7 linked regions of the Homo sapiens genome follow. The protein of the gene in region 4 interacts with the protein of the main gene of each other region in a pairwise test. Each region holds a gene or a part of one and is shown on either strand. Other genes may lie near its edges. The genes, in order: DMRTB1, EFHC1, KIF9, SLAIN1, RFPL3, AKAP9 and ZNF76.

Region 1 (3,995 bases), on a different chromosome or scaffold from region 4:
CCTTTATTAATCTTATAAAAGGATTAAATTTCATTCTTTCAACAGGTATTTCCTAAGGTGTCAAGTGTTTGGGGGAAGGTTTCCGTATTTTTCATGACTCCGCTCAAATGCCACCTCCTCCTGAAAGCCCTCTGCAGTCTCAAGTGTGCTATACCTGTGGGCAGGGAGCCTACCTCTGGTCCTGGCTCTGCCCTAAATTTTGTGGTCCCAGGAAGGTGATATGCCCTTTCTGGAGTCCAGCAAAATGAAGGGCCCTTCTAGCATCAGCATCAGTCAAGGAAGGGGTCATCCTGAACGCTCAGAGCCTTTCAGCCCACTGCCCTGAAAAGCACAGGCCATAGCCCAAGCCGAGTGGTGCAGACTGGTCCACACGTGTGCTCCCAGAGACACACACACTGTGCCTGGGCAGTGCCTAGTCCTCCACCAGCACTCGGGGGCTGGCATGGCGTGGGCACAGTTTATGACAGCTGGCTTCCTGGGACTGAGGATCCATCAAGGCAGCAGGGGCAGACTGGGTGGAGGAAGCTGGCAAGAAGTGAGGGGTGGGACTCACCAAGCCTCCGCCTTGGTACTGGCTGCGGGACACATGCCGGAAGCCCTGCTGCAGGGGGACGCCAGGAGGGGCGTCCAGGTAGCCCAGCGGGAACGGGCAGTAGGGGTGCATGCTGGAGCCACCAGGGTACTCAGGGCCCAGTGCACGGTCCGGGTTGATGTTCAGAGGGCGCACTAAAGAACGCAAGCAAGGAGGGAAGTGTTAGACACCGCTGGGAAAAGCATCCGCAGGGCGGCCCAGGGCGGCGGGGTCATCAGCGCTGCCGTCCAAGCACAGAAAGCCCACCCCGCACTTCCTTCCGCTGGGCCCTCACTGCATCTCCATCCTCCAGCCAGCCCCACTGCTCTTGGAAAGTCCTCAGCACGGCCATCAAGCCCGCTGTGGGCCGGGGCCGCCTCCAGACCTCCCCGCTGCCCCACACACCGTCAGCCCGCACTCTGCCTCTCTGAGGCCTCAGTGCCGAGCTCCTCCTCCTCCTCCGGGTCACAGTGAACCCGGCCATGGCTCAAGCCCTGGACACTGATTTGTGTGACTCTTTGATCAACCCTGTCCCTCCCACAAGGACAAGGTCCTTGAGGGCAAGAAATGTGACCCGCGTCCTCCATCACGAATGCCTGGCTCATGGTTCGGCTCAGCCCTGCTTGTCTGTTGAGATGGAAAAAAGAAAGGTGGCTTCTCCTAGATCTGCAGTTTCAGGCCTGTGACCCTGTCAGATGGGACGTTCCCTGGGGACCTAGATTTTCCTGGAAAGTCAGGGGGGCGGGACGAGCCTGCGGGAGCCTCCGGACCAGTGCCCTGGCACACAGAGGGCAGGAGCTTGTCCAGCGTGACCCGGGCCCCCGCCTCGGCCTGAGCCCGTCCCACCACACCACCACGGGGGAGACACCAGGAAAACGCGTCCGCACCAAACCCCGGGGCTTCTAAAGCTTCAAATGTACATGTGACTTGAAACTACTTCAATACCAAAAGCTCCAAGGCACAGGGAACAATGTAATTTATGTACAAGGTGAAGGGAGAAAAGAAAGGCAACATCTTTACTGACCAACTGTTCTCGTGTGTGGAGTAAAGAAGCAGGCTCCCCTCACCTGCACGTGGGGAAACGGAGGGAAGAGGTGCGCAGGCGCACTGGGCCAGGGCGGAGCTGAGGGGAGGAGCCTCCCGACCGCGAACCGGGAGGGAAGAGTGCGCAGGCGTCCTTGCGCTAACGTGCCGGCAGGAAAATTCTGTTATTCTGGAGGAGGAGCCTCCAGCCCAAGGAAATGGCGGGAAGAGGTGCGCAAGAGCAGTAGGACTCGGCTCCTCGAAGCCTCCCCCGGAGGAGGAAGCACTGCTAAGTCGACTGGACGCCATTTTGTTCTTGCATGCCGGAATGGCACAAACTACAGCTAAATGTTAAAAGCCCTCTGAACCGCCCATTCCTTTCTGTTTCTCGTTTCCTTTTTGCGAAAAGTTACCCAATCCAAATCCCTGTTCGAAGAAGGGTTTCTCAAAGCGGAAGGTCCGTTACCCGTGGAAAAACTTCTCTCCACCCCGAACCCCTATGCCAGCTCCCCATCCGGGCTGGCCTGGGCTGCCAGCTCCGGGAGTCGACCGCGGGACCAAGGCCACGACTTACCAAAGTCGGTGAACAGTGGGCCGGGCACGGTCCGCATCGGCCTGCGCAGGTCTAGGGGGCCAGGGTAGCCACTGCCTGCGGCCTCCGCCCCAAAAGGGGGTCCCGCAAGGCTGGGCATCGCCACGGCGGCTCGCTCGCTCGGCTCCACGTGGCTGCGGCCGCCCAGAACCGGCTGGAGGGCTCTCGGGCCGGGGTTCCGGCCCCGCGGGGGCTGCTCGAAGAAGCAAGCGGCCGCGCGGCCCTCGGGTCCCGGGTCGGCGTCTCCGGAGGGAGTCCCCGGGGACAGCGGGCGGAGGCTCGCGGCCGGGACGGGGACGGGGGCGGGGGCGGCGGCCGCAGCCCCGGAGGCCTGCTTGGGCCCCTGCGCACACAGGGCCGCCTCCTGCTCCTCCTCGGCGGCCTGCGTCTTGAGCACCTTCTGCGCGGCCATGATCTTCTGGCGCTCGGAGATCAGGTAGCACTTCTCGCAGAGGCACTGCTTCCAGCGGCATTTGCCCGCGTGTCCCTTGACGGGCACCAGGAAGCCATGGTTCCTGCATCTCGAGCACTTGGGGGTGCGCACCATTTTGTCGGCCATTGGCAGGGTCAGCCTTCGTAACACAACCACCACCTCTGGGAGCTGCAGAGCAAGTGGCGCTGGGATGAGCCGCGCCCCACAAGTCCCTCGTTCTGGGGACATTGGATACACTTGTAACAAAGCGGCTCGCAGTGTGTCCCGGGAACTGCAGCAGGAACCTTGCATTTTCCCTCCTTTTGGGGGGTGCACAGTTTGGAGAGTTTCTGTGCTTTGGGTAATTAGATGCAATGGATTGGGTTGAATAAATTCTTCATGGGATGCTATTGCATGTATGTCATTTAGCTTATCTGAAGTCTTAGGCATGTAATTTTCCAAACTCTGTTCCCGCCACCGACGGAAGGTATTTGTAACTTTATGAAAGGCGGAGTGATATTCAACGGTCCACAAATTTAAAACTCGGGAGGAATGTAGCTCTCGGTGTAGAAAAATACTGTAAGAGGCAAACTGTATTTCTTCTCCCCAAAGCTGCTCCTTCTGTGGCAGTTCACTTCTCTGCCCTGCAGAGATGCTTCCAGGATATTCCAGAATATTCTCAAGAGTTCAGTGCAGTGTGATGGTTGCTCAAGGGTATGCCCTTACAGTAATTCCCGTTTCTTGAGAGTCTTGATGTAGGAATGCATTTCTGGATGTTGATGCCTTCCAAAGTGAGCATACTTAGAATATTTTAAAGTAAAATAGACAGAATATTGTAGCACTAAGCCTGGCATAGTGTCCTGTGCCTGTAGCCCTAGCTACTCGTGAGGATCACTTGAGCCCAGTAGTTGGAGACCAACCTGAGCAACATAGCGAGACTCCTCTTTCTAAAAAATTAAATAAAAAATTCTGCAAGACCCCTCTTTCTAAAAAATTAAATTAAAAAAAATTTCTAGCACTAGCTTCAGTGATTGCTTAACCTCATCATGAACTTCGTTATCCTTGTAAAACAACCCAAATCTTGGGACATCTGAAAAGTTAGCACAAACGTCATAGTTTACCCGAGGGCATTAATTGTTTTTTTTTGTTTTTTTTTTTTTTTTTGAGACAGAGTCTTGCTTTGTCACCCAGGCTGTAGTGCAGTGGCAGGATCTTGGCTCACTGCAACCTCCGCCTCCCAGGTTCAAGCGATTCTCCTGCCTCAGCCTCCTGAGTAGCTTGGATTACAGGCGCCCGCCACCATGCCCAGCTAATTTTTGTATTTTTAGTAGAGACGGGGTTTTCGCCATGTTGGCCAGGCTGGTCTTGAACTCCCGATCTCAGGTGATCCACCGGCC
Region 2 (3,500 bases), on a different chromosome or scaffold from region 4:
TAGTAGAGTTAAGTCCTTTAAGATGTATTCTCACCAAGGAACATATGCAATAAATAGTTTATACACATTGTGAGTATTTAAAGCAGATGTCAGCAAACTTTTTCTGTAAAGGGCAGTTAGCGTATATTTTGGCCATTGCAGTGGTTTTAGCCTGCGTAGTCTGCCACAACAAAATACCACAGATTGAGTGGTTTAAATAATAGAATTTATTTTCTCACAGTTCTGGAGGTTGGAGGTCCAAGATCAAGGTGCCAGCTGGTTTGAATTCTGGTGAGGGCTCTCTTCCTGGCTTGCATACAGCGGTCTTCTTGCTATGTCTTCATGTGGCCTTACCTTGGTGTGTACATGTGGGAGTTAGGGGAGGGAAGTAACTCTCTTTCTCTTCTTCTCTTCTAAGGCAACCAGTTCTATGGGATTAGACTTAAAGGTGGCATACCTCTATCCTTAAGATCTGGTTTAACCTTAATTACCTCCTAAGGATCCTGTCTCCAAATATAGTCACATTGAGGGTTAGGGGTTCAACATATGAATTTTGGGGATGAGGGGGACACAATTTAGTCTGTGTATCTCTGTCACAACTATTCAACTCTTCCCTTGTAATGGGAGAGCAGCTGTTAACAAAAAAGCGTAAATTATTTACATAATTATTTGTGGATTGAAAATTTAAATTTTTATAATTTCCATGTGTTATGAAACATTTTTTAAAATTTTTTAAACCATTTAAATATGTAAAACCCACTCTTAGCTTGCAGGTCATAAAAAAAACAGGTGGCAGGTTAGATTTGTCCCATGGACTATAGTTTGCAGTATCTGTAGTTTTAGAGTATCAAGATTTACAGGATAGAAGTGATGAGTGTTAAAATCTCCCTGTGTGGTTCTGTTTTCAGGAAGGTACTTGATATTTTTCAGATGACTATGACAAGCTAATAGTACACCATTTCTCCTTTCCTTGTATGTTATAGGTACTGAAATTTGATGCCTATTTCCAAGAAGATGTTCCTATGTCAACTGAGGAACAGTATAGGATCCGTCAGGTGAACATTTACTATTATCTAGAAGATGACAGCATGTCTGTCATAGAGCCTGTTGTAGAAAATTCTGGAATCCTTCAAGGCAAGTTAATAAAACGCCAGCGGCTAGCCAAGAATGACCGGGGTGACCATTACCATTGGAAAGACCTAAATCGAGGAATAAACATCACAATTTATGGCAAAACTTTCCGCGTTGTTGACTGTGACCAATTCACACAGGTATAGCATATATTTTTGAAAGTTGTGGGGTCTGAGGCATCATTCTAATTTATAGAAGGATACATTTCATTTATTAGGGTAAGGGGAGGACATTGGTAATCTGTCCTGCATGAATTATTATGAATGGCTAGGTATTTGCATGTGTGTATGTGCTAATATGTGCCAACACTAATAGTAACATAATTTTTTCAGAATGATATTAATACTTATTCACTCAAAATCAAACTCTCATCATAGCTGAATAATTTGGTAAGAAACCAGGTTAAAATGGCAGTTCAAACAGGGAGTAGGGGAATAGCATCCCTGCTGGGATGTAAGTATGGAAGAGGGATTAAACGTTTTATCTTAAGTGTGAGTTTACAAAAATAGCACTACTTCTATTAGCAGATATGAGCCTAAAATTTTTTGTGTAGCTCATATATTTTTGGTAAATGATACTTGCTATATTCTAGGAAAGCTTACCATCTAAAGAATTTCTGAAATGAAACCATTTTTAAATGAAAAAACCTCTTCTATATGTAAAAAGTCCTCTATTTCGTAAGTTTGGATTTTTTAATACAAAGGAAACTTTTATTAAAGTTACATGCATAGAGGATATAGGTGGCCTTTCTTTACTACAAAGTGTAGGAATTAGGAAGTCAATTCCAAATTTGTCTTAGTTAAAAAAATATTTCTAGCAGCAAAGATATAGTTTCTGAAGTATTTTATGTCCCTATTCCAGGATACCTAGTGCCATATGTGACTAATTTTTACCATGCACTGAGCTCCTATGAATCCATTATTGTTTTCATTTAGTAGTTTGTTTAACAGATATTTATTTGCATGCCTGCTTTGTTCCATGCACTGTTCTAGGTGCCAGATGTTTTCAGGAAGGTACTTGATATTTTTCAGATGACTATGACAAGCTAATAGTGCACCATTTCTCCTTTCCTTGCATGTTATAGGTACTTGCCCCTATAGAGGTTCCAATCTTGTTGGAGGAGATAAGCAATAGCAAATAAATAGATTGGTTATATGTCAGATGATGATAACAGCAATGGAGGAAAATAAAGCTGAGTAAAGGGAATGGAAGTTGAGGGGCTCTTTATAGAGGCGGATCAGAGAATGCCTCAGTGATAAGATGACATATGAATAGAGGCCTGAAGGAAGTAAAGAAAGGAGCCATGGCATCAGTGCCATTCCAAAGCAATAGAGAAAAATAGCTTCAAAAGTAGAGGTGCTAGACCATCTTTGAGATATTCTCCCGTTCCAACATATTTTTATCTCTTTGCTTTTTAGGTGTCTGAGGTCTTATATATCATAGGCAGTTTCACAATTGTACCAACAGTGAGAAATGATAAAATGTTATCTAAACATAAATGTATTAACAATTATTTTTACAGTTGTGTTTTCATAACAATTATTTTTACAGTTGTGTTTTTATGGGCAATTTGAACATTTGCAAGTTAATCACTGAGCGTTTGACCTAATCTATTTATAGTCGGTTCTCATTATTGACAGTAATTAGGACTATAAAGTCACCACAAACACTGAATTAGTGAATACTGAACCACTAGTCTTAGAGGAAATACAGGGTTAGGTTCCCACTAATCTCTGGCCACATTTTTGTCAACTGATCAATACATAAGTTTGATTCATGTATGTTTCTGTTTAAAGACACCTTATTTAATATATACGGTTGATTCATTAACATTAAACTCACACCCAACAGCACTATAACTCACGTCTGAACAAAGCTTATCTAAGACATGCATTTTCTCCATGAGGTGTGTTACAGCCTTCTTGTGCTTAGGAACACTAAATAGCACTTCATCACTAGGCACTGGGACCCTTTAAACAGCAAAATCACCAACAAAAAACACAAAAATGCAAAAAATCTGGCACCTTCATGTATATGTATATGTATGTGTATATGTATCACATTTTCTTTTTCCAGTTTACCATTGATGGGCATTCAGGTTGATTCCATGTCTTTGCTATTATGAATAGTGCTGCGATGAACATACTTGCGGGTATGTCTTTATGGCAGAATGATTTATATTCCTTTGGGTATATACCCAATAATGAGATTCCTAGGTCAAATGGTAGTTCTGTTTTCAGGTCTTTTAGGAATCACTACACTGCTTTCTACAATGGTTGAACTAATTTATACTCTCATCACCAGTGTATAAACATTTCTTTTTCTCCACAACCTTGACAGCACCTGTTATTTTTTTACTTTTTAATAATAGCCATTCTGACTGGTGTGAG
Region 3 (3,500 bases), on a different chromosome or scaffold from region 4:
AATCCCAGCACTTTGGGAGGCCGTGGCAGGTAGATCACCTGAGGTCAGGAGTTCCAGACCAGCCTGGCCAACATGGCAAAACCCCGTCTCTACTAAAAATACAAAAATTAGCCAGGCATGGTGGCACGTGCCTGTAATCCCAGCTACTAGCAGGGCTGAGGCAGGACGATCGCTTGAACCTGGGAGGCGGAGGTTGCAGTGAGCCAAGATTGTGCCACTGTACTCCAGCCTGGGCAACAGAGTGGGACTCTGTCTCAAAAAAAAAAAAAAAAAAAGAAAAGAAAGAAAGAAAGACTTGGTCCACTCACACATTAAATGCTCTGTGCTTCTGTGTTCGCTGAAAACCATGTCCAGCAGGACACATTTGATAGGGCTGCATGTGAGCTCTTTTCTGACCGCTAGGACCTGCGAGGCTTGGGCAGTTTGCCCTTGAATTTTTCCTTTGAAGAATGTCTCAATGCTGCCCAGAGTAGGCCCATAATTGTTTGCTGAATGAAAATATCTAACACTCTTACACTGTCCTAAGCCTTCAGAAGCATTCTCAGGGTGAGGATATAGGGACGGATATATCTTTCCACTTCTCTTGATAAGTATTTCTCCAGCTGTTTTGATAAGCTAAACAGTAATGAACTCAAGATATTCTTACTGCACCCCATGGGCGATTATACAATGACAGATCAATCATTAGAAAGCTTTATGAATGTGAACAAATGTCAATTCTTCTGTGTCAGATACGAGGGTAAAGGTAAACTTATTAATTTATTAAAGGTAAAATTATTAAAAGACAATTAACGATGGGATTTTATTAATTTCTTCATTAGCAGTGTGTGAGGGGGTGGTTTGGATTTGATGGGCTCTAGAGTCCATTGGATCCTGTCCAATTCTGTCTTGGTCCTTCAAAGGTTGCTTGGAAATACGGTCACACTATAGCAAGGTGGGACAGAGAGGCCCAGTCAGTTGAAGGCAAACACATCGCACTTACTCTTTTGTCATCTCCGTATCTGATCATTTCATGAGCAAAGTCATCGGTGGGTTTGACACGGACAAATGCATGAACTTTTTTCCTAGTACCCATTCTAGCTAAAAAGAAGGGAACAATGAAATTTTGAGTAGTCATTATCAAATAACAAGTAGAGGAGAGGGGTCATTCATTAAGAAGATCAGAAAAGAGTGACGAGCAGTCCATTTTTCCCTCTCTCCCTGAAAGCCAGTTTTCCTTTTCACCCCTCAGCATTTCAGTGTTCTACCCACAAGACACTGCTCAACAAATACACGCACTTTCTGCTTCACAGACTGCTTTGCCATTTTCCACCAATGACCCCAGAGAGACTGAAATACAAAGTGAAAAGAATGCTTCCTTTAGTGGCCTAATCTTAGATGTCATTTCTAGAAATGTTCTGCAACTAAGATGATGAGTCCACTTATGCTTTCCTTCATTTATTATATTTTCTTCTAAAATACTTACTATGAAATACATTAAAACTAATTTTCTTTTCATTAACTTATCTTGCTTCAGATACAGCATCCTCTTCTCCAGTAGACTAACTAGATCAGAAATAGATGACCCAGACGTATATTTGGTCCATAATAAATATTCTTTCTTCTCTTACTATATTGAGAAAAAATATCACAGACAGTCCCCTACCTCCTCTTGCTCTCCTAAAACCTAACTATATTCTCATCATTTTCTTTCAGTGTGTGTGTGTGTGTGTATGCGTGTGCATATACATATATATAGTAGTATAAATAAAGGAAGACATAGGACATATATACATACATTTTTTTTTTTTGAGACAGAGTCTCACCCTGTCACCCAGGTTGGAGTGCAGTGGTGCTATCATGGCTCAATGCAGCCTTGACCTCCCAGGCTTAAGTGATCCTCCTGCCTCAGCCTCCCCAGTAGCTGGGACTACAGGTGCGTACCACTGTGCCCGGCTAGTTTTCTTACATTTTTTTTGCAGAGATGGCGTCTTACTATGTTGCCTAGGCTGGTCTTGAACTCCTAGCCTCAAGTGATCCTCCTATCTTAGACTTCCAAAGTGCTGGGATTACAGGCATACCCAGCCGATGTTCAATATTTTTTAAAAAATTAACATTTATTTCATTGTTTTATTTTTGGAGACAAGGGTTTCTTTATGTTGTCTAGGCTAGCCTTTAACTTCTGAGCTCAAGTGATTCTCCCATCTCAACCTTCCAAGTAGCTAAGACTACAGGCGCATGGCTTGGCTTTAAAAAAAAACTAACTTTTGGCTGGGTGCAATGGCTCATACCATAATCTTAGCACTTTGGGAGGCCGAGGTGGGCAGATCCCTTGAGGCCAGGAGTTTGAAACCAGCCTGGGCAACATGGCGAAAACCCATCTCTATAAAGAATACAAAAATTAGCCAGGCAGCCAGGTGCGGTGGCTCAGGCCTGTAATCCCAGCACTTTGGGAGGCCGAGGCAGGTGGATTACCTGAGGTCAGGAGTTCAAGACCAGCCTGGCCAACATGGTGAAATGCCATCTCTACTAAAAATACAAAAATTAGCTAGTTGTGGTGGCAGACGCCTGTAATCCCAGCTACTCAGAAGGCTGAGGCAGGAGAATCGCTTGAATCTGGGACGTGGAGGGTGCAGTGAGCTGAGATCGCGCCATTGCACTTCAGCCTGGGCGACAGAGAGGGACTCCATCTCCAAAAAATAAATAAATGAATAAATAAATAAAATAAATAAATTACCAAGCATGGTGGTGCATGCCTATAGTCCCAGCTACTCAGGAGGCTGAGGTGGGAGAATCACTTGAGCCTGGGGAAGCTGAGGCTGCAGTTAGCTTTGATCATACCACTGCACTCCAGCCTAGGTGACAGAGTGAGACCATATCTCAAAAAAAAAAAAAAAAAAAAAACTAACGTGGGCCAAGTGCGTTGGCTCTTGCCTGTAATCCCAGCACTTTGGGAGGCTGAGGATGGCAGATTACCTGAGGTTAGGAGTTCAAGACCAGCCTGGCCAACATGACGAAACCCTGTTTCCACTAAAAAAAAATACAAACATTAGCTGGGTGTAGTGGCAAGCGCCTGTAATCTCAGCTACTCAGGAGGCTGAGACAGGAGAATTGCTTGAATCTGGAGGGTGGAGGTTGCAGTGAGCCAATGTCATGCCACTGCACTCCAGCCTGGGTGACAGAGCAAGCTCAGTCTCAAAAAAAAAAAAAAATCAAAAAATCTAAGTAACTTTTAAGATGTTAACCATAAAAACCCCTCATGTATAACAGGGACTACTTTTAATTAGATTATCTTGCTTTTTTAAAAAGTACATTAAATAATGGTAATATTTTATTTTATTTTATTTTTTTTTTTTGAGGCAGAGTCTCGCTCTATCACCCAGGTTGGAGCGCAGTGGCGCCATCTCAGCTCACTGCAAGCTCCGCCCCCCAGGTTCACGCCATTCTCCTGCCTCAGCCTCCCGAGTAGCTGGGACTACAGGCGCCCGCCACCAAGCCCCGCTAATTTTTCTGTATTTTTA
Region 4 (3,500 bases):
TTATGCATAGAGAAAAAGATGAATCCAAGAGAAGACCTAGAGATGCTTGAATGTGGCCTGGCTACCCATCCAATCACTAGTAAACTGCACCAAGGAGCTCCATCCATTAAGAGCTTTAGATCGGCTTCGGCACCTCCTTTGGGTATGAACAGACAACCAGTGACACCAAATATGTGAAATATTCCTTTTACATGAAACACTGAGACTAAAAGTAGAGGGAGTAAAGAGAACCAAAGAGAAAAACAATGCAGGGAACAGATGAAAATGTCAAGACGAATATAATTTATATCATCTAAAAGAAAATGTTACATTCACACACACACACAAGCACACACATACACATGGATATTGAAAAAAACAGTTTATTCATGCTTGGGAAATGAAACTATCATAGCAAAAACAAAAGAGTCAGTAAATGAGTTTGGAATATCAAGTTGAAGAAGTCTCCTGAAAACAAAATAAAAACAGATTAGCAATGGGATAAGACAGATAAGAAAATCAAGTGATTAAGCCAGATGGAATGACCTACATCTGTCTGTTACAAGTTCTTAAAAAAAAGAAAGAAAGAAAAGAAAGAAACTGGAAAGTTATTTTGAAGAAAAAAAAAAGAGCAAGAAAATTTCCAGAGTGGAAGTCAGGCCATGCAATTCTAGAGTGAAAGTGTGCACGAATGTCCAGTATATTAAATAAAATAACCCATACCAAGGTACAACATGACATTTTAGAATACTAGGAATAAAGGAAGCAAAAGAAAAAGTCAAAAAGGATTAGATATCCAAACACAGTGCACTCAACAGCTAGAACATAACAGAAGCTAGAACAAAATGGAACAGTGCCTTCAAACATGAGGGAAAGGTTAACTTAGACTTTTATAGCCAGTCCAACTATGAATCTTATGTAAGGGCAGAACAATGACATTTTCAAATACGCAGGATCTCAAAGTGTGCCTCTCCTGCAGGTCTCCTTTCTCAGAAAGCTATTGAAGGCTGTGCCCCACCTAAGAGAATAAAAAAAATACAAACGAAAAGGATTTAAGAAGAAGGGAATCCACATTGCCAAGAAACTGAAAGAGTTCCCATGGCAACAGCAGTATGCATCCAGCTTAGGGGGCAAACAGTAAAAACTAGAGCAATGAGATTAAGAGTTTCAGAGGGGATAGCACTACAATATAAATTTTAAAAAAGCAGATTTAACAGACTGCCAAATGTGTATGACCTTAATGAGGGATTTTATGGCTCCTTTAGCGTGTTTGGGGAAATAATTTCTGATAGGTAATTAAAGAAAGTGAAGAGGAGAGAAGAAGTGCCATTACTAACTCTTGGAGGAACAAAGGGGTCAGAGAAAATACATGTTTAACATGCAATTAACAGGACTTAGCTAGTAAATTATAATCATAATGCAGACATTAAATATAAAAGAAAAACCATAAAAACCATTATGAGAAGGGAAAAGAGATATGGTAGTCAAGGGTGAGAGGAAGAGAGCTAAGTTTTCTTCTTTCATAATAAGTCCATAGATGTCTAAGATCATAAAAGTATAAAGACTGTTTAGGAAAAAGAAACAGCTAGTAGAGTATAAAGTGATGCCTATGTGAAGGACTCAGCAGGAGGAGGGAGTAGAGGACTGCTTCCTGTAATAAGCCTAACAAGGGGAGTTTTGAAAACTACTAACATGTTATTATATTATTTTGATAAAACTGTTGAGGTGCTATACAAATGTATGGCATTAAGACAGAAGTGATCATTTTCAGAGTCAGTCTCCTGACAGTGAGCAGGATAGCTTTGAGCCTAGTGTTTCTATGACTTGGCCTAGAGCTGGATTTAAAGAAAGAAAAAGCCCACAATAACCCTGAATGTTTCCAATGAAGTATGACAATTGTCTAGAAAAAAAAAGTCTCAGTTATTCTCAAAATATTTGGTTCTAAAGTCATCTTTTTGCAGATAATACAAAAAACTAGTTATAGAGATCATGTGGCTAAAAACTCCTTGAGTACAACACAGCTCCAAAATTAGATAGGCAAGGTTTTTAAAAAAAAAAAAAAATCTGTATTTCTCCTATATAGCTCTAACCCTCCAAAAAGTCATTTTAAAAATCACTTTATTCAATGTCATTAGAATGCAAGTAACATTTACAATGTCCTATCTGGCCATCATTAGTACATCATACATTCTAGTGACTTATAAACATTTTTTTCAACTTCAGTAGTTTCATTAATGGTATATTGGATTCTGGCAAGAGCATCTGAAAAGTCTTAATCTAAATTTTCAGAATTCTTCAAATTATATTTGAAATATACATTTCAAACTACTATTTGGAATGTCACTCTAATTTTCTTTAACTTTTCTTAAATTGCTTCCAAACCACACACACCAGAAACTACTATCCTTCTCATAGAACCCCTTCTTTTCCATACACATCACATTCTATGCTGGGAGAACAAAAATAATATAAAGCCCATGATAACCCTGAATGTTTCCAATGAAGTATGACAACTGTCTGGAAAACAAAGTCTCAGTTATTCTCAAAATATTTGGTTCTAAAGTCATCTTTTTGCAGATAATACAAAAAACAAATGGTACAGTCACATATGTATACACACAAGTATATATTTTATGTGTGTATATATACATATAAAACCTCTGTATATACAGTTTCTATGTATATATACATATAAAACCTCTGTATATACAGTTTCTATGTATATATACATATAAAACCTCTGTATATACAGTTTCTATGTATATATACATATAAAACCTCTGTATATACAGTTTCTATGTATATATACATATAAAACCTCTGTATATACAGTTTCTATGTATATATACATATAAAACCTCTGTATATACAGTTTCTATGTATATATACATATAAAACCTCTGTATATACAGTTTCTATGTATATATACATATAAAACCTCTGTATATACAGTTTCTATGTATATATACATATAAAACCTCTGTATATACAGTTTCTATGTATATATACATATAAAACCTCTGTATATACAGTTTCTATGTATATATACATATAAAACCTCTGTATATACAGTTTCTATGTATATATACATATAAAACCTCTGTATATACAGTTTCTATGTATATATACATATAAAACCTCTGTATATACAGTTTCTATGTATATATACATATAAAACCTCTGTATATACAGTTTCTATGTATATATACATATAAAACCTCTGTATATACAGTTTCTATGTATATATACATATAAAACCTCTGTATATACAGTTTCTATGTATATATACATATAAAACCTCTGTATATACAGTTTCTATGTATATATACATATAAAACCTCTGTATATACAGTTTCTATGTATATATACATATAAAACCTCTGTATATACAGTTTCTATGTATATATACATATAAAACCTATGTATATATTTTCTATATATATACATATAAAACATATGTACATATATTTTCTATGTATATATACATATAAAACATATGTATATATATTTTCTATGTATAT
Region 5 (4,117 bases), on a different chromosome or scaffold from region 4:
CTTTCAGCATCAAAAAAGGAAACGTTCTGCATGCCCATATCCAGAAAAATCCCCACTCGCTGTAACTTGCGGTCTACTAAGAGGAAAGTCAGCGGCACCGTGCTGGCAGAGAGGCGGCTTCCATCCCTCAAACTCACAGTCCAGAATCCAAGCTCTGTGGTCAGCTGGATCTTCCCTTTGCAGTGAACAGATTCTCTGCAGACTCCCAGGTCCCATTCTGTGCTTGTTCCCACGTCCACCTCCCAGTAGTGGCGGCCACAGGTAAAGCGAGGGGAGCCCAGGATGCAAACGGACACGTCAAATCTCTCGGCAAGGTCTTGCCGATTCTGTGTGATGAGCCCACTTCGGACGCTCCTGAGGTCGTCAGAAATGAGGAGGAAGTTGTTGGCTGTGTCGGCATCCAAGGTCATATCCACTGTGAAAAGGAAAACAAGTTGCTCAGCAAGTGGACAGAAGCCAACCCCATGCCTCTCTTCTACTTCAAAGGCCCAAATATCTCCTGACTTTAGTTTCTTTAATTCTGTTTCTTCCTCCAAAATCAAAACTTTTCATGAGGAAACTTCCCTATTTCAAATTTTCATAGGTATGCTTTGTGGCAATACGTGACTCTTATTCACAGTAGCAATTCTTATTTTACTTTACGTCACGTGTTTGCTTCACTGAACTTTTCTTCATTTAGAGTGGAGGGTCTCTGAAGGCAGACACCATGCCCCCCTTTCTACCACCTTGATGTGTGAACAAATAAATGATAATTAAGACAATGCAAGTGGTCAATATTAAATATGTTTCTGCTTCCACATTTTATTGCTCCAATTCAGTATATAGAGCATGATTCCAGGCTTTTGTTTTCCATGTTTGTAAACAAATTAATTGTGCACAGTTCTGACAGCAGATAGGGTATCTCTGCAGCTGACAATGTGATGACAGAGATGCTGGTCCTGGACATTAGGAGGCTCTAAGGCCAGGTGGAGGAGGGGGACCTTTTAGATGAAAGAATGTTTTCTATCCTACATGGAAGGTGAGACCTTAAGCAAAACAATGGTAAATTTTGGAGCCAAGAGAAAGGTATTTGAAAGTTGTCTGTCATAACTGACTGATTGTAGAGAATAAGGGCAGAAAATACAAAGGTCAATAATTTAAGGCATTGGGTATGTGACTGACAGGTGAAGCCGCCAATTCTCATGGAGGAGGCAGTGTGATCTGGCCTAGAGAAAATTAATTGTCCAGAACATTCTGAAAAAAAAAAATCTACAAAATATATTATCCTTCAAGTCAAAAAACTGATATGATCACTAATATAGATTTTATAGATCACAGTAAGACTACCCTAGTCAAGACTAGGGATTGATTGCTATTTAATGGTGAATTAGGGAATGGACATGGACAAGGAAGGAGGAAGAGGGTTCCAAACATGACTTGGACAGGGTGAATCTCTGTCCTCCATAGTTCAGCAGAGAGACAGTCAGGTATGGGTAGATGGATGAGTAGAGATCATGGGTGTCAGGGCAGAAGCTACCAGTGTCAGGGACATTATAGGGGCCCACCACCATTTATAGGTGTAATTCTTTGCCCAGGCTGACCATAACCTTTTCATTTAAATGTCCCTTTTCCCCAGAGTTATGGAGAGTGATAGTATTTTCTGTAGCCAGGACCACTGTTGGAGCCCATGGCGCATGGATGAGGAGACCAATATCTGCAACTCTCCCCACTCACAGAAACAAACACCATAGGTGCTCCATTCCCAACTCTTCTCAACCCTGGGGTGAGGTTGTTTGGTACAATGGGTGCCAATATTCACTGTGCATTAGAAATACCAGGCCCATCTTAATGTCAGATTCATGGGAACCTTTGCTAGAGAGAAATTCAAATTCAGTTGCTCTATGTTTTTGCTACTCAGCAAAGTCCCCAAGCCAGCGGGATCAATCCTGAGACTTCCCAGTTCAGCATCTGCATTTTAACAAGATCCCCAGGTAATCTGAGCACACTAAGTTTAGAGAATCCCTTGTCTAACCCATGACATAGACATCGGGTTTTTGTTTGTTTTTGTTTTTGACATCACCAGGTGATTCTATGTGTTGTCAGGGCTGAGAATGTGATGATGAAGCATCTCAATTTTAGGTGCCAGACAGCAGCTAATCCCCATGTGGAATGAGGGGCCAACTGCACAGATGATTTTTCCTGGTCTGGTCTTGGGAAGGGGGCAGGGTATACAGATTCCTTACCTTGGAACTTCCGCATCCTTGGGTTCATCTGTAGAATCTTCTTCAGCTTGGGCTCCAGTTCCTTGATGTGGGAAACCAGCCTCTCTAGCTGCCGATTGGGCCTGATTTTGTTCCTCTGAGAGACCATGGAACAGCAACAGCAAAGCAGATCCTCCCCATGGGGCTCCTTCTGCAGCGAATTGATGCACTTGAGGCAGACGGTGCATCCACACTCCAGGGACATTGGTTTTTCCAGATAGTCTGAGCAGACGGGACAGCTGCTTGCTTCTTGGAAGAGTGCAGCCATGTCCACTGCCAGGGGAAAAGTACACAAGGGAAGAAAATTTCCTTGAGGTGAAAGCCTGTTAGTTGTGACAAGTGACAACCTTTTCATGCATAGAGGTATTGTGTTCCAGCTTTGTCACTCCGAGAACAAGACCATGAGTACAAACACTCAAGCACATCCCCCCACCCCCCGTCCTCAGAGATTTGAAGTTCTATTGGGAAAGTCACGAATCATCACTGTGCTCTGAGCTGAGGTGGAGGAAGGGTCCATTCTCCTGGTGACCCAGCAGCTGAGCCTGAGCCAGTGACGTGGCAGCACCCATGTGAGGAACAGCGAGCTGGGGTCATTTCACCACCTCCTAGGGGAACCCCAGCAAGAGACTGATTGATGAACATAAGAATTAGGAGCTGAGAGGCTGGGCACGATGGCTCATGCCTGTAATCCCAGCACTTCGGGAGGCCAAGGTGGGTGGATCATCTGAGGTCATCAAAAGTTCGAGACCAGCCTGATGGGTGAAACCCCATCTCTACTGAAAATACAAAAGAATTAGCCAGGCGTGGTGGCACACGCCTGTAATCCCAGATACTTGGGAGGCTTTGGCAGGAGAATCGCTTGAACCTGGGAGGCAGAAGTTGCACTGAGCCAAGATTGTGCCATTGCACTCCGGCCTGGGCAACAGAGTGAGACACCATCTCAAAAAAAAAAAAGGGGGCTGGATGCAGTAGCTCACATCTGTAATCCCAGCACTTTGCGAGGCCAAGGCAGGAAGATCCCTTGAGCCCAGGAATTTGAGACGAGTCTGGACAACACAGGAAGACCTCATCTCTACAAACAATACAAAAATTAGCAGTGAGCAGAGACCACGCCAGGTCACTCCAACCTGGACAACACAGTAAGACCCTGTCTCACCAAAAGAAAAGAAAAGAAAAAAAATTACATCCTTCTCCAGCCTTGGAAATGAATACCAAATTAACTGCCACCACTGGTGGGCAGGGGACAGGCTCGGAGGTTCCCTGAATGACAGAGAGTTGTTTTAGGAACCTCATGTCACACCCTTCTGAGACACTGTGGACCATGTCTGAGGGGTCCTACACTGGCACTGAGGGGGCCTGACCCCTCTTCATACACTGAGGTCAGGGGGCTCCCAGGTACACAACAGGATGCTGACCTCCTGCCGCTCGCCCACCCACAGGCCAGCCCAAGGCCACCCCCTTGGTCACTCTGTTCCCGTCCTCCTCTGAGGAGCTCCAAGCCAAAAGGCCACACTGCTGTGTCTCATGAGTGGCTTCTACCCGGGAGCTGTGACGGTGGCCTGGAAGGCAAACAGCACCCCTGTCACCCAGGGTACGGAAGTCACCAAGACCTCCAAACAGAGCAACAAGCACACAGCCAGAAGCGACCTGAGCCTGACACCCGACCAGTGGAGGTCCTGCAGCAGCTACAGCTGTAAGGTCACACACAAGAGAGCACTGTGGAGAAGACAGTGGCCCCTGAAGAATGTTCTTAGGTCCCTGACCCTCACCCCACCCATGGGGGCCTGGAGCTGCAGGATCCCAGAACAGAGATCCCCTCCCACCCCAAATCATCCAGCCCCTCTCCTTGTACCAGTAAACCCTTAATAAATATCCTC
Region 6 (3,156 bases), on a different chromosome or scaffold from region 4:
CAGCTCACTTTCTAGTGGGGAAGACTAATATGCACAGAACTTAGAATATAATAAGTAAATGGGAGGTCACAGGAGTTAGCTAGTAATTTTGATTAGAGGGATCTAGAGAGGCTTCATGAGAGCGGTGTAGAAGTTGTTATTGACATACTTCACTCTGCCCCACTTTTTCTTATCCAAGATTATGTTTATCATATTTTGACCCTCCTAAGATGGAGCCTTGGAACTGATTCAAAGTAAATCAAAACTGGTGCTCCAAAAGCTCCTTGGGCCAAGATGGGGAAGAAGGTCGTAACTTGCTGCACCTGGGTCATGAAGCTAACACTCCCATTCCTTTTGAAACCAACGTTTTTTTGTCCCTGATCAAAGGGACAAGAGCTTCACCCACCTTGCAGCATTCCCAGCACATTCTTATTGCCAATTTAAGGGTCTTTTTGTTCTCTTCTTATCTCATCTGCCCTTTATTCTCTGTTCTTTTCTCTTTTCATTACTTCTCACCCTTTCTTTGCCTATCTGCTTTTCCCATCTACTTTTGCCTTCCATCTCCTTATACCCCATTTATCCCTCAAGCTGGAACCTGATGCTGGCAATATAAGAGACCTCTAATGCCTCTTGGGAAGGGGATGAGGGGATTTTGAGTCCCTATTCTTCCGTTCCAGTTGATTTTGTCACAACAGGCATTGACATAGTTTAACTGGGCAATTGTGAAATTTGACATTTGTTCTATGTTCATATTTAAACGTGTGATGTGATTTTTGTAGGAAATGTATATACTGTTTATAGATGGGCTGTGAAATTTTATCTTGGAATCTTTTTTAGAATGAAATTTTTGGTTCGACGGTGGCATCGAGTCACAGGTTCTGTTTCCATCAATATTAACAGAGATGGCTTTGGACTGAATCAAGGTGAAGTCAAAATAGCATATTTTCTTATGTTTATGACTCTCTAAATCAGAGGTCCCCCACCCCCAGACTATGGACCATACTTGTCTGTGGCCTGTTAGGAACCAGGCCGCACAGCAGCAGGTGAGCAGCGGGCATTACTGCCCGAGCTCCACCTCCTGTCAGATCAGCCGTGGCATTAGATTCTCATAGGAGCACAAATCCTATTGTGAACTGCACATGTGAGGAATCTAGGTTGTGTGCTCCTTATGAGAATCTAACTAATGCCTGATTATCTGGGGTGGAACAGTTTCATCCAGAAACCATTCTGGCCCCTTTGGGTCCATGGAAAAATTGTCTTCCATGAAATGTGTCCCTGGTGCCAAAAAGGTTGGGGACTGCTGCTCTGAATTACTGCATGTGTAATACTTACCAAGTAATGAATTCTGGAAGCAATGTTTTCCAAAGACAAAGCCCTTATAACTGCCAAAACTAGGTAACTTCACTGTTTTAAAGAGGGTAATAATAACTGATTTTCATGGAGAACTTAGTCTGCACCTGGCCATGCTCTTTTCATGTATTCTCCCAATCCTATGATATAAGTACAGTTTTACTACTCTCACTTTTAGATGAAAAATCGAGGCATGGAAAACACAAGTCATTTGCCCCAGAATGGCCAGTAGGGAAGTGATGGAACCAGGACCAAACACTGGCAGTCTGGGTCCAGAGCCCACACTCTTCATAACTGCATTTAAGGCACGGTTCAAGACAGGATTGCTGTTAGTCATATGGAAGAATTAGGAAGTTTTCATAATTTAACAATATTCAAACAAGTTTCTGAGTTTACCAACAGGTTGTATAATAATGGTAACAGCTAAAATTCCTTCTGTCTACACCTAGAAGTGGAAACAAACTAGGGCTTGAACATTTCTGGCAATAAAGATGAGGTCCGAATCTGGGGAGCACACAGAGGACACAGCATCCCTGTGCTGTGTATTCATAGTAAACCACCTTTACATACTCTACCAGGAGCTGAGCATCCTACAGAGGGGAAATAGATTTGGTACCCTACACAAAGTATTTTGAAATATCATTACACTGAAACAGCTGAAATTTGTACCATAATAAGTTGTGTTTTATTAAAAGTTAGCAAATCTTGGTTTCAAGTCAGTAGATTGGAATGGTTACATTGGTCTAATATTTTTTATCCACATCATTTCCCACAAGCCACACCCACTCAGACACCCCTCACCTCTCATCTACTTAGAGCTAAGGTCTTTAAAGAAGAAAATATGCCAATTAAATAATTTTCTTTGAGACATAATTCCAGATATCAGAAATACTCATATTCAAAAGTAAACAAAATAACATTTGAAAGCCGAATTTTTGTTTGTACTGTTTTCTCCTTTATCAAGAATAATAGAAAATGACTATAAATAGGAGATTGTATAATATAGTATAATAGTCTTTTGAGCAGTTACCTATTTTGTAGAAATTTTTTAAGGTCTTGGGATTTTATTTTTCTTTACAAGGAATATTTTGGGTTACTTTAGGTGCAGAAAAGACTGACTCATTTTATCATTCTTCTGGTGGGCTGGAGTTATATGGAGAACCAAGACATACTACGTATCGCTCAAGATCAGATCTGGACTATATTAGGTCCCCTTTACCATTTCAGAATAGGTAAGAATATGAGAAAACCTGCCTGGAATTGTTAAATGTATTAATATTTAACAGAGATAAATGGACATTTTTAGGGCTTTGACTTCTTTGCATTGAGATAGACATCTTTGTTATATATAATTTACATAATATGACCAAGTGCGGTGGCTCACACCTATAATCCCAGCACTTTGGGAGGCTGAGGCGGGCAGATCATGAGGTCAGGAGTTCAAGACCAGCTAGTTGGAGACTAGCCTGGCCAACATGGTGAAACCCTGTCTCTACTAAAAATACAAAAAATTAGCCAGGCGTGGTGGCAGGCGCCTGTGGTCCCAGCTACTTGGGAGGCTGAGGCAGGAGAATGGTGTGAACCCGGGAGGCGGAGCTGGCAGTGAGCTGAGATTGTGCCACTGCACTCTGGCCTGGGCAACGGAGCGAGACTCTGTCTCAAAAAAAAATACAAAAAAATTAGCCAGGCATGGTGGTGGGTGCCTGTAATCCCAGCTACTCAGGAGGCTGAGGCAGGAGAATCGCTTGAACTCAGGAGGTGGAGGTTGCAGTGAGCCGAGGTCACGCCACTGCACTCTAGCCTGGGCAACAAAGCAAGATTTGGTCT
Region 7 (2,875 bases), on a different chromosome or scaffold from region 4:
TGCTTCCAGTTGAGGGTGGAGGGTTCTCGTTCTGTTTGGGACCTCTCTGAAGGGAACCCAACACCAGGCTGCTTTCCTGGAGAAACTACCGTCAGAGTACTCTGACTTGCAGGGTGCTCTCTCTGGAGGAAACCTTGTTACGGGAGTGCAAGGCAGCATGGTTCAGGCCAGCAGAAGGAGCCTGGAGGGTTGGTGGAGAGACCCAGCCTCTTGTGTCAGCTCTGATGCCAACCAGCTGTGGATTATTGGGTGGGCCATTGCATCTCTCTGGGCTTATTTTCCCCTCTGTGAAACTAGTACCTTTAGCCATGAGTTCTCTAAGTTTCTTTTCATGCTCATGTTCTGGTATGGCTCCAACTGCTCCTGGAGAGGGAAGCAGGGCAGAGTGGGCTTTTCCAGCCCCTGCCCAGGGCAGGGGTGGGATAGAGGCAGACATGGGCTTCTTGAGCCAAAGGAGGTGGAGAGCCTGTGCATGAGGTGGACGGTGGAGGATGAGACCCCACTGGGTGCTCATCTCACCCCCTGCCTGCCACATATGGACAGGCTATGGACTGAAGAGCCACGTTCGTACCCACACTGGTGAGAAACCATACAAGTGCCCAGAGGAGCTGTGCAGCAAGGCCTTCAAGACCTCAGGAGACCTGCAGAAGCATGTCCGTACCCACACTGGTATGCTGGGCCCTGCCCACTCCAACCCCATTCCCTGGGCAAAAGGAATTCAGCTTGCCTTTCAGACTTAGACCTGGAGCCCAGTGCCATCCCCAGCTTGCTCCAGCATGGCCCTCTTTCCCACACCCCTCCTCACATCCCACCATTTGCATAGGTGAACGCCCGTTCCAGTGCCCTTTTGAGGGCTGTGGCCGCTCCTTCACCACATCTAACATCCGCAAGGTACATGTGCGCACCCACACAGGCGAGAGGCCCTACACCTGCCCGGAGCCCCACTGTGGCCGCGGCTTCACCAGCGCCACCAACTATAAGAATCACGTGCGCATCCACACAGGTGGGCTAGCTGGCATGCGAGGACTACCCTCACTCAGGCCCCAACCCCTCTACTGTAGGCTTCCCATCTAAGACACATTCCCAACTCCCAGCCCAGAACCCTTCTGTGCCAGCCATTCCAGGCTGGTCTGGGGGTAGGGTATCCCCAGAACAACTCTGCTTGCAGTGAGTAATTCCTCAATTTCCAGTTAGGTCCAATCTGAAAGGTATTGCCAGTCCTCTCTGGGGTCCCTCAGCTCCCTACCACCCCTCTACACCCACCCTGAGTTCTCCAACTCTGACTGAACTCTTGAAAAGAGGCCAGGGTCAGGAATGATGGGGAAGAAGCAGAGTGAACTGTCACCTTCAACTCCTCACCTTATCCGCCGTCCATGACTCCTGTGTATCCTCACCCTCCCCAGTGTTATGCCCCTCATCCAGCTTTCTGTGTTGTGTCTCAGCATGTGTGTCCCCTCTTTCCCATCACAACTGATACTTCAGTCATCCTTGCCTCTTGCCTCTGCTGTTCACCATTCTCAACCTCCCACCCTCAACCTTATAAGCCCCAGTGCCCCCTACCAGCCCCTTCACTAGCCCCAGCCTTGCCCTGTCCCCCGTTTCCTTTCCGCCTTGTCTCTGGATTCAGTGGTTCAACACCTGTGTCCTCTCTGTGTTCCACTGGCCATCTTCCCCAACCCTGTCCATTCAGAGTCTCAGGTCTCAGTCCCTCTCCCTCCCTCTGGCTCTCCCTTCACCAACCCTGTCCCTCACCCCTGTCCCCTTAGTTTCCCCCTTGCCAGCCCCAGTTCCCACCCCCCTCACAGCCCAGTGTCCCCAGGGGAGAAGCCATACGTTTGCACGGTGCCAGGCTGCGGGAAACGCTTCACCGAGTACTCGAGCTTGTATAAGCACCACGTGGTGCACACACACTGCAAGCCCTACACCTGCAGCACCTGCGGCAAGACCTACCGGCAGACCTCCACCTTGGCCATGCACAAGCGCAGTGCCCACGGCGAGCTGGAGGCCACGGAGGAGAGCGAGCAGGCCCTCTATGAGCAGCAGCAACTTGAGGGTAAGGGGAGTGGGCAGAGGGTGAGAGTGGGGACAAGCCAGGCCTCCCCATGGCATCTGGTAGCAGATGTCAGCCTTGGCTCTCCTCTCCCAGCCGCCTCTGCAGCCGAGGAGAGTCCGCCACCCAAACGACCCCGGATAGCTTACCTTTCGGAGGTGAAGGAAGAGAGAGATGACATCCCAGCCCAGGTGGCGATGGTGACTGAAGAAGATGGGGCCCCCCAGGTGGCTCTGATCACTCAGGATGGTGCCCAGCAGGTACAGGCCCTGGAGGGCAGAGGTGCCATACTAGCTGGCACTCTCCACTCTCTCTGGGGACTCTGGGAGCCCTGAAGTTCTGACAGCCCCACTGCCACCCAGCTTCTTGTTTAAGTTTTATAGACTTCAGAGGCTGAGGCTGAGGAGACCACATCTTGCAGCACAGCCTCTCCTCCTCCTGTGCTTCCAGCTCAGTCTCTGGGGCTTCTAGAGCACAGTTAGTAGTTTCTCTCTTTACTTGGAGGCTGACAGGTCCTGTTCATCTGAACAGGATATGGGATGTCCTTCTCAAGAGAGGCATGTTCATATAGCAGCCAGAACATGGTATGGGGTCTGAAAGCCTGGGGTCTGGTCCTACTAGTGTACTAGCTAGCTATATAACCTGACCCTTGTCCGTACCCTTGCTAGAAAGTACATCTGTGCTTTCTAGAGTTGTTAGGACACAATCAGGTGGCGACCCTGAGCTGGATACAACAGGGCCCAGAGGCAAAGTGGTGATAAATAGAAGTAGTCAGTGGAATTCTTCTAGTGTGGCCTCTCTTTGCAACCTTGGACCCATTTTGTT

Evidence for each region.
Region 1: the proteins of SLAIN1 (region 4) and DMRTB1 interact in a two-hybrid assay, tested with the Homo sapiens proteins (2 studies listed by BioGRID).
Region 2: the proteins of SLAIN1 (region 4) and EFHC1 interact in binary tests that used the Homo sapiens proteins (3 or more experiments, as listed by UniProt).
Region 3: the proteins of SLAIN1 (region 4) and KIF9 interact in binary tests that used the Homo sapiens proteins (3 or more experiments, as listed by UniProt).
Region 5: the proteins of SLAIN1 (region 4) and RFPL3 interact in binary tests that used the Homo sapiens proteins (3 or more experiments, as listed by UniProt).
Region 6: the proteins of SLAIN1 (region 4) and AKAP9 interact in a two-hybrid assay, tested with the Homo sapiens proteins (one large-scale study listed by BioGRID).
Region 7: the proteins of SLAIN1 (region 4) and ZNF76 interact in binary tests that used the Homo sapiens proteins (3 or more experiments, as listed by UniProt).

What each region holds. Positions count from the first base shown.
Region 1 is NC_000001.11:53,458,204-53,462,198, reverse strand, and holds the start of DMRTB1 (doublesex- and mab-3-related transcription factor B1), read right to left. Parts: upstream 2,801-3,995; 5' UTR 2,746-2,800; coding exon 2,169-2,745; intron 727-2,168; coding exon 554-726; intron 1-553.
Region 2 is NC_000006.12:52,437,342-52,440,841, forward strand, and holds part of EFHC1 (EF-hand domain-containing protein 1), read left to right. Parts: intron 1-962; coding exon 963-1,250; intron 1,251-3,500. UniProt on the Homo sapiens protein: Microtubule inner protein (MIP) part of the dynein-decorated doublet microtubules (DMTs) in cilia axoneme, which is required for motile cilia beating.
Region 3 is NC_000003.12:47,276,300-47,279,799, forward strand, and holds part of KIF9 (kinesin-like protein KIF9), read right to left. Parts: intron 1,081-3,500; coding exon of another isoform or gene 1,076-1,080; coding exon 983-1,075; intron 1-982. UniProt on the Homo sapiens protein: Essential for normal male fertility and for progressive motility of spermatozoa.
Region 4 is NC_000013.11:77,704,187-77,707,686, reverse strand, and holds part of SLAIN1 (SLAIN motif-containing protein 1), read right to left. Parts: intron 1-3,500. UniProt on the Homo sapiens protein: Microtubule plus-end tracking protein that might be involved in the regulation of cytoplasmic microtubule dynamics, microtubule organization and microtubule elongation.
Region 5 is NC_000022.11:32,356,550-32,360,666, reverse strand, and holds the start of RFPL3 (ret finger protein-like 3), read right to left. Parts: upstream 2,801-4,117; 5' UTR 2,596-2,800; coding exon 2,223-2,595; intron 762-2,222; exon of another isoform or gene 416-761; coding exon 1-415.
Region 6 is NC_000007.14:92,104,862-92,108,017, forward strand, and holds part of AKAP9 (A-kinase anchor protein 9), read left to right. Parts: intron 1-816; coding exon 817-902; intron 903-2,431; coding exon 2,432-2,561; intron 2,562-3,156. UniProt on the Homo sapiens protein: Scaffolding protein that assembles several protein kinases and phosphatases on the centrosome and Golgi apparatus. Required to maintain the integrity of the Golgi apparatus. Required for microtubule nucleation at the cis-side of the Golgi apparatus.
Region 7 is NC_000006.12:35,290,735-35,293,609, forward strand, and holds part of ZNF76 (zinc finger protein 76), read left to right. Parts: intron 1-543; coding exon 544-669; intron 670-823; coding exon 824-1,003; intron 1,004-1,805; coding exon of another isoform or gene 1,806-1,819; coding exon 1,820-2,053; intron 2,054-2,146; coding exon 2,147-2,310; intron 2,311-2,875. UniProt on the Homo sapiens protein: May be involved in transcriptional regulation.